Linked DNA regions of Homo sapiens. The protein of the gene in region 2 interacts with the protein of the main gene of each other region in a biochemical or structural test. Each region holds a gene or a part of one and is shown on either strand. Other genes may lie near its edges.

Region 1 (3,652 bases), on a different chromosome or scaffold from region 2:
GTACAAACGTGGGCCTCTCAGACCCAACCTGTTGACCCTTTCACCTCCCATAGTGTGGCCTAGCATTTAAGAATGAGTGTTGCAGCATTAAGACAGGGTTCAGATGGCAATTCTGTGATTTCTGAGTTGTTGACCTTGAACACGTTTCCAGGCTTCTCTTACCCTCATGTTCCTCAGCTATAAAACGGAAATAAAAGTACCATGTGCCAGGTTGTCGTGAGGATTTTATGACATTATTTCGTAAAGTTCTGAACTTTGTACATGTAGTGCCTGGTACATACTAAGGGATTGACAAATATTTGTAAACGATGATATCCTATTGGTCTTAAAGGTGGTGCAAGTGTAGCGGAAAATCTGGCAAAATACGTGCCAAGAGCTTAACGATGTTCAAGACCAATCATTCAACTTCTGTAAACCTGCATTACAGAAATAACCTTGAAACCAGGTATGAAGAGATGGGAAGGAAATGCTCTCAGTAGGAGTAAACAACTAGAAGCAACCCAAATGTCCCACAGGAGAATAAGGATTAGGTCAATAACTGCACATAGCACTCCCGCAGATAATGATGTTTGTTTTGGTTCGGAGTACTGCCCAATTTATGAATCATTTTTTGATCCAATTATTAAATCGTAAAAAAATAAAATAAAATAAATGAAATGATGTTTCACTTGATTGCGGGAGCCAGGTGGTGCCCTAAGCAAATGTCACTGATGGACGGTGAAGAGAAAAAAGCAACATGCAACATTACATACACCTTGTAAGTACAATAAGGTTAAAACAAAGTCCCCTAAACACAGAGAAGCAGAGACTAGGAGAGAACATGCCAAGATGCTCATTGTACTTGTGTTTGAGATAGCGGGATTCTGGATGATTCCTTTCCCTTCTTCCTTTTTTTTAAATTATTTTTTTCAATTTTTCCTTAATAAACATGTATTATTTTTATAATGAAAAAACAAAACTACATCCTTTTTCTTAAAAGTTCTTTAACCCAGCATGAAGTGATGTCCCAATTGTTAAGATCTGTGAGTCCACAATAAATTTTGTACACTGTTCCTCAATTTTTAGAATTTAAGAGTCCCAAGATATATTATATGATGAAAGAGCACCAAATGATGGACATTTGATTTCCACTGGTTGAGAACTCCTTGTTCTTACATAGCCTAGACACCCTGCAGGATGAGCATGGCAGGTCACACCCAGGCAGGCATAAGCACAGCCCTGTCCTTACCGTTAAGCGTCTCCATGGCACGTTCTGGACACACAGCTGACTCCTCCGGCCCCACACACCAGTACATGCTGGGGGGTCTTTGCGACATGCCAGCCATCAACCCTTGCAGCAGCCGATCTTCAAAGGCAGGTCCCGCTGTTGTCACTGCCACTGCCGCTGGCTGTGGGGTGCATTAAGGCGTGGACTCGTAGCCATGGCTGAGCAGAAAGCTTTCTTGCTCTGGTGGCGAAAAACAATCAAAACAGAAAGCCTTTATAATTCCTGTCCTCCTCCCCTGCAAATATTTGCATGGGTTCATTTAGTTTTCCCTCTGCAACATTCCTTTTTGTAGTCCATCTATCCAGCCAAACCCATCAGGTGTGGTCAGTGGGAAGGCACAGCTCCCCCCATCCCATCTTGATGCGGGGCTCAGGTATTGTCTACCTGAGAAGAGTCTCAAACAAACCCCAGACAATTGGAAAACACATACTGGTAACAGCTTCAATCATTGTTCAGTCAACGCACACCTACTGTCACATGCAAGGTAGCCAGGCTCTGTGTGAGGCTCAGTGGCACCAAGATGGCTCAAGGAGGCTCTTGCCCTCAGGGGCACACTCCAGTGGGGGTAGGGCAGACATAGTTAAGGTTAGTCACGATACAAGGCTCTCCTTTTGCCCGGGGCCAGTTCTTCTGGAAGCCAGAGGTGAGCACGTCATCCCAAGGGGGTGGTCAGGCAACAGTTCCAAAGACATGGAATTATTACTGGTTATGAAGTCAAGTTAGCATGAGCTTTAGCAGAAAGCTAAATGACGGAGGTTAGCAGACATGAGCCTCAAAAATTCTGCCCCTTTCCCAGGGGACATTTGGCAATGTCTGGAGACATTTTTGGTTGCCACAACTTGGCTGGGGGAGAGTGCTACAGGCCTCTAATGGGTAGAGGTCAATGATGCTGCTAAACATCCTACAATGTACAGGACTGCTATTTGCAACAAAGAATTATCTGGCCCCAAAAGTTCCAGGGTGGAGTTAGACTAATCTCTGAAACTAATGACTATGATAAACTGAGACCAAGTGCTGCTCTTCTATGCTGGGCCCCCACTGAGCTTAGAGTCCCCCCATGGGCATAAGTGCCCATCCTGGTATGGTGATTGAAGGACCAGAGGGAGGGTAAGACCCATGCCTAGCTCAGGCCTGACATGAGGTACTACCATAAGTAATGCATGTGCGCCTATCCTTGTTCTTATAGCATATCCTACATGTGATGAAGTACGAGGTAATTAGCACCTCTTGTCTGTGTTCTCTCAGATAGACAACTCTGAAATGGGGAGTGATAGTGCAGCCAAAAATATATTTTTTAAATCAAGGTTATATAAAAATAATGCCTAAGAGAATCTGTACAGGCAAAAGCATAGCGTGGACGTTAAAGGTGTGGACTGCCTGTGTCACATGTTCGCAGTGTGACTCCCAGCTGAAAGGTATGTGTGTCTCAGTTTTCACCTGTTAAAAATAGACATCCACCCTTATGCCCGGGCCTGCTAGTGGGGTTACTGTGTGAATTCAACCAAAGTGAAGTTTCTGCAGCCTCTCTCTACGACAGGGCTGGGGTGGTCATTACCTGTAGTACCAGCGCACAGACTTGGAGGCCAGCGGGTCTCCCACTTCCCTGCTAATTAATAAGATCAGAATATCAATGCTGGAGGGCAGATGCCAGCCTCACCAGCGGGTAGGTTCTAGAAGATGCCGTGAGCAGTAGGGGCACGAAGTAAGGTACAGGACAAGGCTGTGGGAATTTCTCACCTAAAAGCCTAGAACTCAGGCACCTGGCCCAGGTGGACTGGACTCGTCAAGGCAGGGAAAGGTGGAGCTAGAAAAGCCAGGCTCCAGCAGCCTTGTGCAAGCTGCACATGTTTCAGAGGCAAAAGGGATGGTCGACACAAACCACGTGTGGGAAACACCTGTGTTTGAAGTTGGGAAGCCTGAAAAGTCGAAGGAGGAAAGGAAAAACGATCAATCTGGGCAAAATTTAGGGGATGATGAAAGCCTTATAAATAGCAAAACCTGATTTGGAAAATCAACTTGTGACAGAGAGAGGAAGAGCCAGCAAGACAGAATCTGTTTTAAAATAAACGTTCCGATCACACATTCACATCCAGAAACTGAGAAGCACAGTTGCCATCTGCTTTCAGACACCTCTCCAAAACAGCTACCGCACATAACCAACAGCATTTCAAAAATCCAAACGCTAGACATTCTTCCTGAAAACAGAAGTGTCTTACCATACAATGTTTTTAAGTTCTAAAAAAAAAAAAATCTTAAAATTATTTCAGGCTAACCCTCACCCAGCACATTTTGTTCCCCTTTTCATTTTCAGTTTCCTTTTGAAAATCACTTTACCAGTGGAAGACTCTGCCCCTGGAGCAGTTTTAAAATTCTAGTTACTATTTT
Region 2 (3,652 bases):
GTTTCCCACCAGAGGCTGCGGTCCTGAGGGAGGCGGCCATGGAGAGCTGGCTGCCAGGCGAGAGGCACTTACCCAGGTGCAGGAAGTCGGCGCTGCAGGATGGGGGCGGAGCACTGTGGGCAGACGGGAAGGATGGTGGGACGGTCACAGAGTCCGAATTGAGAAATTCGCCGAAGAGATCAGGATTGGAGCAGGGCTGGGAGTTGTTGCCTGAAGACGGCAGAAGCGGGCCAAAGGGGTCAGCTGTGGGGACAGGCGGGCATGGGGAGGACTCAGCCCGGCTGCCTGAAGACAAAGGAGCCCAGCTCTGGAGTCAGGCCTGCCCAAGAGGCCACTCCAGCTGGGCAGCCCAGACCCCACGGCTGCCCTCGCAGGGGCACTGAGGCAGTCAGCCCAGGGGCTCCCCGTGCCCCACGCCTCAGGATGACTTTCCCAGGGACACAGCAACACTGCTGAGATGGAGAAGCCAGTAGCTCCCGGCCCGTGAGCTCAGGTGGGCAGCACAGAACCCTGACATGACCCCGAGGCTGCTCCTGGGGGAGGTGGGGGAAGGGCACGTTCCCTTCCTGCAAGCACCTTCGAAACACGCCCATGCAGTGAGAATGACTCAGCCTCATCACTCATCTACTGTGAAGCCACTCGCCTTCAGAACAGAAACACGTACCAGCGGCAGGGGGCCCTCCTCTTGGGGTGCTCTGCACGCTCAGGGGAGGGGCCGGGCTTGCCAGGAGCAGCGGGTCCTCGCTGAGCAGATCCTCCGGGGGCCCCTGGGAGGCGGCCTCAGGGGGCCCAAGGAGGCAGCTGAGCAGGTCGGTGTTGCTGGAGGGGGCCTTGCAGGCCTGCGGGGGTACAGCTGGCCCTGCGCCCACCTCGGAGTGCAGGCCCAGGAGGTCGACCCCGTCTTCCTGTGGCACAGGCTCTGGCAGCACAGCCGGTGTCTCCACCTCAAAAACCAAGTCCTGCTGCACCAGCCCTGCTGCCAGGCCGGGGGGCTCTGGGTCGGCCCTGGGTTCCTGGCCCTCGCTGGAGATCGGGGATCCCCCTTCATCTGACACCTCACTCTCGTCTCTGTCCTCCATCAGGGCAGACTCGCTCTCCTTGGAAGAGGCATTTTCTGCACCAGTCTCTGCCTCCTTCTCTTCTGCGAAAAGGAAACAAAACCACAGGCTAGTGAGACCACACGGCCAGCACCAGGGTCCCCACGGCGCGTCCCTTCAGGGCCTCCTCGGCCCAGGGCCTTGGTGAACACACGTGGCCAGCACCAGGGTCCCCACGGCGCGTCCCTTCAGGGCCTCCTCGGCCCAGGGCCTTGGTGAACACACGTGGCCAGCACCAGGGTCCCCATGGCATGGCCCCTCGGCACCTCCTCGGCCCAGGGCCTTGGCAAGTGCTGCAGGAACACCAGGGTCCCCACGGCGCGTCCCCTCAGCCCAGGGCCTTGGCGAACCCACATGGCCAGCACCAATGTCCCCATGGCACGGCCCCTCAGCGCCTCCTTGGCCCAGGGCCCTGGCGAGTGCTGCAGAAGCTTCTGGGCGGGCGGTGGGGTGTTGTTCCTGAGGCGTCTCCAGCACACCCACCTCCAGCCTCTGCCTCAAGGGTCTGCCTGTGGCTCTCTCCGCCTGGGCCTCTGCGGTGCCTCAGGCTGAGTCAAGTGGGGGCCACATGGCAGCACTAGGGGGTAGGAACACCAATCAAGGGTGCTCTGGGAACAGGCGGCAGAAGGGACGAGCCCGATGGGAAGGCCAGGGGTGCTGGGACAGGAAGTGGCAGGTGCATCCCTTGGGGTGTGTCTGGGGTGAGGTCCAGTGATGGCGCCCAGGTGTTTTCCTGAAAAGCCTCAGAGGGGCTGGGAGCCCACTGGGGGTGTGGGCAAAGAGAGGTGTGGGATCCCCAGGTGGTGACAGTCTGTCCCTCCGCCCAGGCCCTTCCCCTGTACCCAGGGGCCCCGCCAGCATGGCCCATGCTGCCAGCCTCCCCAGGCCCACAGACTGGGATGAAGAGCGAGGGTTGTTATTTCAGACTTTGTGGGCATGTTCTTTTTTTTTCACCTTTAAAAAGATATGAAATCATTCTTAGCTCGTGAGCCATTAAAGAACAGGCTGACATGCCGGGTGCACAGCCCCACTGAGGTGCAACTCAGCTCTGCCGGAGGCCCGTCTCCCAAGACGCTTGCCCTGCCCCAGGGGCACCTCCAGACCAGGGGCCTGCCCTCTGCAAGTGGCCAGGTCCAGGGACGCTGCCTACCCTGCCAGTCCAGCGTGTGCAGGAAGCGACTGGCGTCCGCGCTGCTGCTTGGCGGTGAGTCAGAGTCTGTGGGTTCGGCTTCCGGGGACCCTGCCCCAGCATCATACTGAGCCGTGGAGCCAGGCTGCCGGGGAAGCTCCGGCTTCCCTGCAGGAGAGGGAGGGCGTCAGGGCACTGGCACTGGCCAGCAGCCTCGGGGCAACACTGACCCCAGAGCTGGGAAGTGCAGCCAGGCGGGCGCCAGCACCGTGGCAGGCCAGGCCATCGGTAAAGCAGACCAATGACATGACGGGGAGGGGCTCTCTGAACAGATTCCTGCTATCCACTCGGATGCCACTCTGGGCCATGCGTGCACACTTGGGCACAGCACACGCACACATGAACACGCACAAGGAACCCACCACTGAGGCATCAAACGCCACACATATGCAGGGTACACATGAATGCACACACACAGCTGCACGGTACACACGAATGCATAGAGCACACACACAGGCGCACAGTACACACAAATGCACACACACAGATGCAGGGTACACACGAATGCACACACAGCACACACAGATGCACAGTATACACGAATGCACAGACAGCACACACATAGATGCAGGGTACACATGAATACACACAGCACACACAGATGCACAGTACACATGAATGCACACACAGATGCATGGTACACACGGATGCACAGACAGCACACACACAGATGCAGGGTACACATGAATGCACACACAGCACACACACAGATGCACAGTACACATGAATGCACACACAGCACACAGATGCACAGTACACACGAATGCACACACAGCACATACACACATGCAGGGTACACACGAATGCAAAGCACACACAGATGCACGGTACACATGAATGCACACACAGCACAAATGCACAGTACACAGGAATGCACACACAGCACACACAGATGCATGGTACACAGGAATGCACACACACAGATGCACAGTACACACGAATGCACACACAGCACATACACACATGCAGGGTACACATGAATGCACACACACAGATGCACAGTACACACGAATGCACACACAGCACATACACACATGCAGGGTACACATGAATGCACACACACAGATGCACAGTACACACGAATGCACACACAGCACATACACACATGCAGGGTACACATGAATGCACACACAGCACACACAGATGCACAGTACACATGAATGCACACAGTACACACAGATGCACAGTACACACGAATGCACACACAGCAGAGATGCATGGTACACACAAATGCACACACACAGGCACAGTACACATGAATGCACACAGCACACATAGATGCAGGGTACACATGAATGCACGCACACAGATGCACGGTACACACACATGCACACACTCGGATGCACAGTACACATGCATGCACACA
Region 3 (3,652 bases), on a different chromosome or scaffold from region 2:
CGAGATTACCAAAAAAAAGATTTTTTTTTACAAAATGACATTACTTTTGTTAAAGAGTAATCACTATTACCATTATATGATAGCTTATTAGAGCAATATCTTAAAAGAGCATATACTATATTTAGTATATAATTAATATACAATATGAGTACATGCATTTTTTAGAAGAGTTTCATGCAAATGTCTTGGTTTTGGTGTTGAAACAAAGGTTTTAGTGATATGACAAATTCACTTAAGTAGTACTGGAAAAAATGTCATTAAAGGATAACATTTCCCTTTTTATACACATGGCAATGCATATAAAACCAAATCTCAAACATAAAATGCAAGTATTGCACATTGTTAAACACACTCAACTTGAAGATTCTGATCTGAAAAAAATAGTTCTGGGCCAGGCACGGTGCCTCGTACCTGTAATCCCAACACTTTGGGAAGTTGAGGTGGGAGGATCACTTGAGCCCAGGAGTTCAAGACCAGCCTGGGCAACATAGCAAGACCTCATCTACAAAAATTTAAAAATTAGCTAGGCTTGATGGCAGGTGCCTTCCCAGCTATTCTGGCGGTTGAGGTGGGAGGATTGCTTGAGCCCAGGAGGCTGAGGCTGCAGTGAGCCCTAACTGCACTACTGCCATCCAGCCTGGGTGACAGAGCAAGACCCTATCGCAAAAACATAAAAAATTAAATAGTTCTGTAGTAAATAATTTTTTCTATCTCTTACTGCTTTGTGACAAAACTTCTCGATGGCTGCTTAACTAGGATAAAATACCTTAAATGGTTACTAGTTTAAATATCTTCCAGTTAAACGTGTTATATTAATTATGCAATTCAAAGAGTATGATATGCTAATTAAGACACATTAGAAAAAGGCTGTATCGTAAGCAATCTTAAACTAGTGCCTAGAGGATGGATTAAAAATAATACGGTTTTACATTTCTTACATACCTATAGTATTAATCATAACATACTCTAGAGAAAACAAAACTAATTATACACAAATACACACACACACACACACACACACACACACACACTCCTGTAATTTTTTTTTTTGCAAGTCACTTAGATGGTGTTATAATTCAGTCACTGAAATAAGGGCCCGTGGTGTGGGAGAAAAGGAGCCGGGAAGCAGAGATACAGACAAATGGTTAATTTCACAGGTTTTGTATGTCACAGGTTTAGAGCACCTGGTCTCACTTCTGGGTTGACTCTTCAAATAAGAGAACCTGTAAAACTTATACTTCTTGTGGTTTTTCTATGTGAAGAACTGTCTCCAAAGGTTAGGCATTTCAGGGTAGTCTTCTATTTAGCTGAAGCAAATGACCCAGTTTCACTAGCATACTCGCAGGCCCAGCCTGAGTCATATCACGGGAGGCCAGTCATACAGCCAGCCCCAGCTGCATGCAGCCAACAATGAGCTGCATGGCTCTGCTCAAGACATTTGAGTGCCACATTGCACACGACAGCAAAGTTGGAGGAAATTTCACTTCTTCAGTTTTCTCAGACTTAGAACCAACCAAAAACCATTTTCTCTAAATACAGTTAGTCCTCCTAGAATCATTAGAGAAGCACACCTACTCTAAACTGTTAGAGCCCTGAAACCACAATTTGAGAAATTTCTAACAAGAAGAGGAGAAACAAAGAAATGGGACGAAAACAGATAATACTCATCTGTGGAATATGGAATATTGAGAAATACATGTATAATGACAAGGAGCACCACAAAATTAAATTTCCTTTTCAGTTTATCTTGTACTACTCATATATTTATAACCCCAGTTGATACTCTTTACATACAGATCAGAAACCCTGCACACACCTGCAGTCACTCACCCTACTCACACACAGCGCCAGCTAGCCATTCTTTCCTTCGACTCCATTTTATTTTACAGTCTGAGGCAAAAGAGATACAAGGGTTCTTCTGCTTCTTCCATCACTGTTACTTTAATAATTTCCTATCCTCAACAATCACAAATTTATATAGTTGTTCCTGTATCAGGAGTTTTAGAATTATGACAGTATTATTCCTCTTTGCATTTTTTTCTTCTTAATGAAATGCAAGTAACTATTAGCAGAGGCACAGATAAATGGTTAATTTCACGGGTTTTGTATTTCGCATGTATTTGTATTTAGCATGGTACTAACTTAATGAAATGCAACTAACTATTAGGTTGAGGGCAGAGGCTTTGCAATTGCCACAGGGAAAAATTAAAACTTCTTCTTCTCACCTGAAGACCAGAATAAGTCTAGAAATGTTAGAAATATCCATAAAACCCCTTTAGGTAACTATCTGCAGCTTTAGATCCATAGCATAACCACAGTGTTAACAGAATTAAGACCAATGAATTCAATTTAGGTAAGACCCCCTATTACCATCTTTACAACAGTTTATAAAGCAGAGAAATCCCATGATAAATTATTTTTACATTGTTTAGTCTCCAGATAATCTGTCAGTTCCAAGATGGAACATCAAATATTCTTTCCACATACCGTATATAGAATGAATACATAGGATGACTTGGCAAAATGGATTGAAAATCACCTGTTTAAAAGACTAGCAAGTAGTTCTTCAATCTTATTTTTAGCTTCAACTTCAGATGAACATTTTTTAAATGAATCTTCTTCACTAAAGGACTATCAAAGAAGCATAAATAAGGATTAGCACAAACTCAAATAACTATATCTAATTATTATCAGTGTACAGTCAAATAAATATTCAATACATTCTTCACTAACTTACCTCTTGTCCTTAGTTTGAGCCATTTAGTTCACTTTTATATTAACAGTTTTTTATCTGCAAGCTATTGTACTCACTAGAAAGTTAATATAAAATATTACTGTATTAACAGTTAATATAAAACAGTTAATATAAAATAATTCAAAGTTATGAAAACTCTAAAGCTCTAGTACCAACTCCAAGCTTTATTGTATGATTATGGCAAGAGTTCTTAATCACCTAGGACTTGAATCTAAGTTTATCCTTGGACAAGTTATTTAACCTTTCTAAAGTACGGTATCCTCATCTTGAGAGAGAGAGAATGGAAGGAAGGAAGGAAAGAAGAGAAGTAAGAAGGAATGGACAAACAACAGTACTACCTACCTTGATGCTTTGTTGTGAAGATTAAATGGACTAACATATTTAAAGCACTCAGTAAAGTGCTTGTCCCATAGCAAAAAAATCAGTCAATGTTAACTGGGTGATTATACCTTTCCCATTTGCTAAATCACTGGACTACTCTGAAAACAAGATTTTTAACAGATTAAAATATTTTGCCTCATATATGCATTATAGGCTATTAAAATTAAGTTGCACTGTCTTCAATCATAGTAGCTAACTTAAGATATCAAAATATCAATGCTTAAGATTCCATTTAAGAATACTTATTAATCCAATCTATTAATAATAAATCAGCCTTCTAATAGGAAAGGGATCACATACTAAGCAAACTAGAATAGTAAGAACATGGTACTAAAACTAGAAATCTTTATCTCAAATAATGTGATAACCAGTACTTAATTAAAATAAGTATCATCATGTACCTGAGGTGGTCCTGAGAGTATCACAGGGGAGTTATCCTCTCCAAAACTGAGCTTTTGGATACGCTGAGCAACTGAAATTCCTAATTCTTTTTCTAAAATTTTGGGTGAAAAGGTT

What was found.
Region 1: the proteins of GAK (region 2) and LRRK1 form a complex in vitro, tested with the Homo sapiens proteins (2 studies listed by BioGRID and IntAct, with this or other methods).
Region 3: the proteins of GAK (region 2) and POLI form a complex in vitro, tested with the Homo sapiens proteins (one large-scale study listed by BioGRID).

Annotation. Positions count from the first base shown.
Region 1 is NC_000015.10:100,922,306-100,925,957, reverse strand, and holds part of LRRK1 (leucine-rich repeat serine/threonine-protein kinase 1), read right to left. Parts: intron 1,448-3,652; 5' UTR 1,326-1,447; coding exon 1,229-1,325; intron 1-1,228.
Region 2 is NC_000004.12:866,292-869,943, forward strand, and holds part of GAK (cyclin-G-associated kinase), read right to left. Parts: intron 2,395-3,652; coding exon 2,248-2,394; intron 1,142-2,247; coding exon 665-1,141; intron 244-664; coding exon 73-243; intron 1-72. UniProt on the Homo sapiens protein: Associates with cyclin G and CDK5. Seems to act as an auxilin homolog that is involved in the uncoating of clathrin-coated vesicles by Hsc70 in non-neuronal cells. Expression oscillates slightly during the cell cycle, peaking at G1.
Region 3 is NC_000018.10:54,282,901-54,286,552, reverse strand, and holds part of POLI (DNA polymerase iota isoform a (long)), read right to left. Parts: coding exon 3,538-3,652; intron 2,811-3,537; exon of another isoform or gene 2,738-2,810; intron 2,632-2,737; coding exon 2,540-2,631; intron 1-2,539. UniProt on the Homo sapiens protein: Error-prone DNA polymerase specifically involved in DNA repair. Plays an important role in translesion synthesis, where the normal high-fidelity DNA polymerases cannot proceed and DNA synthesis stalls. Favors Hoogsteen base-pairing in the active site.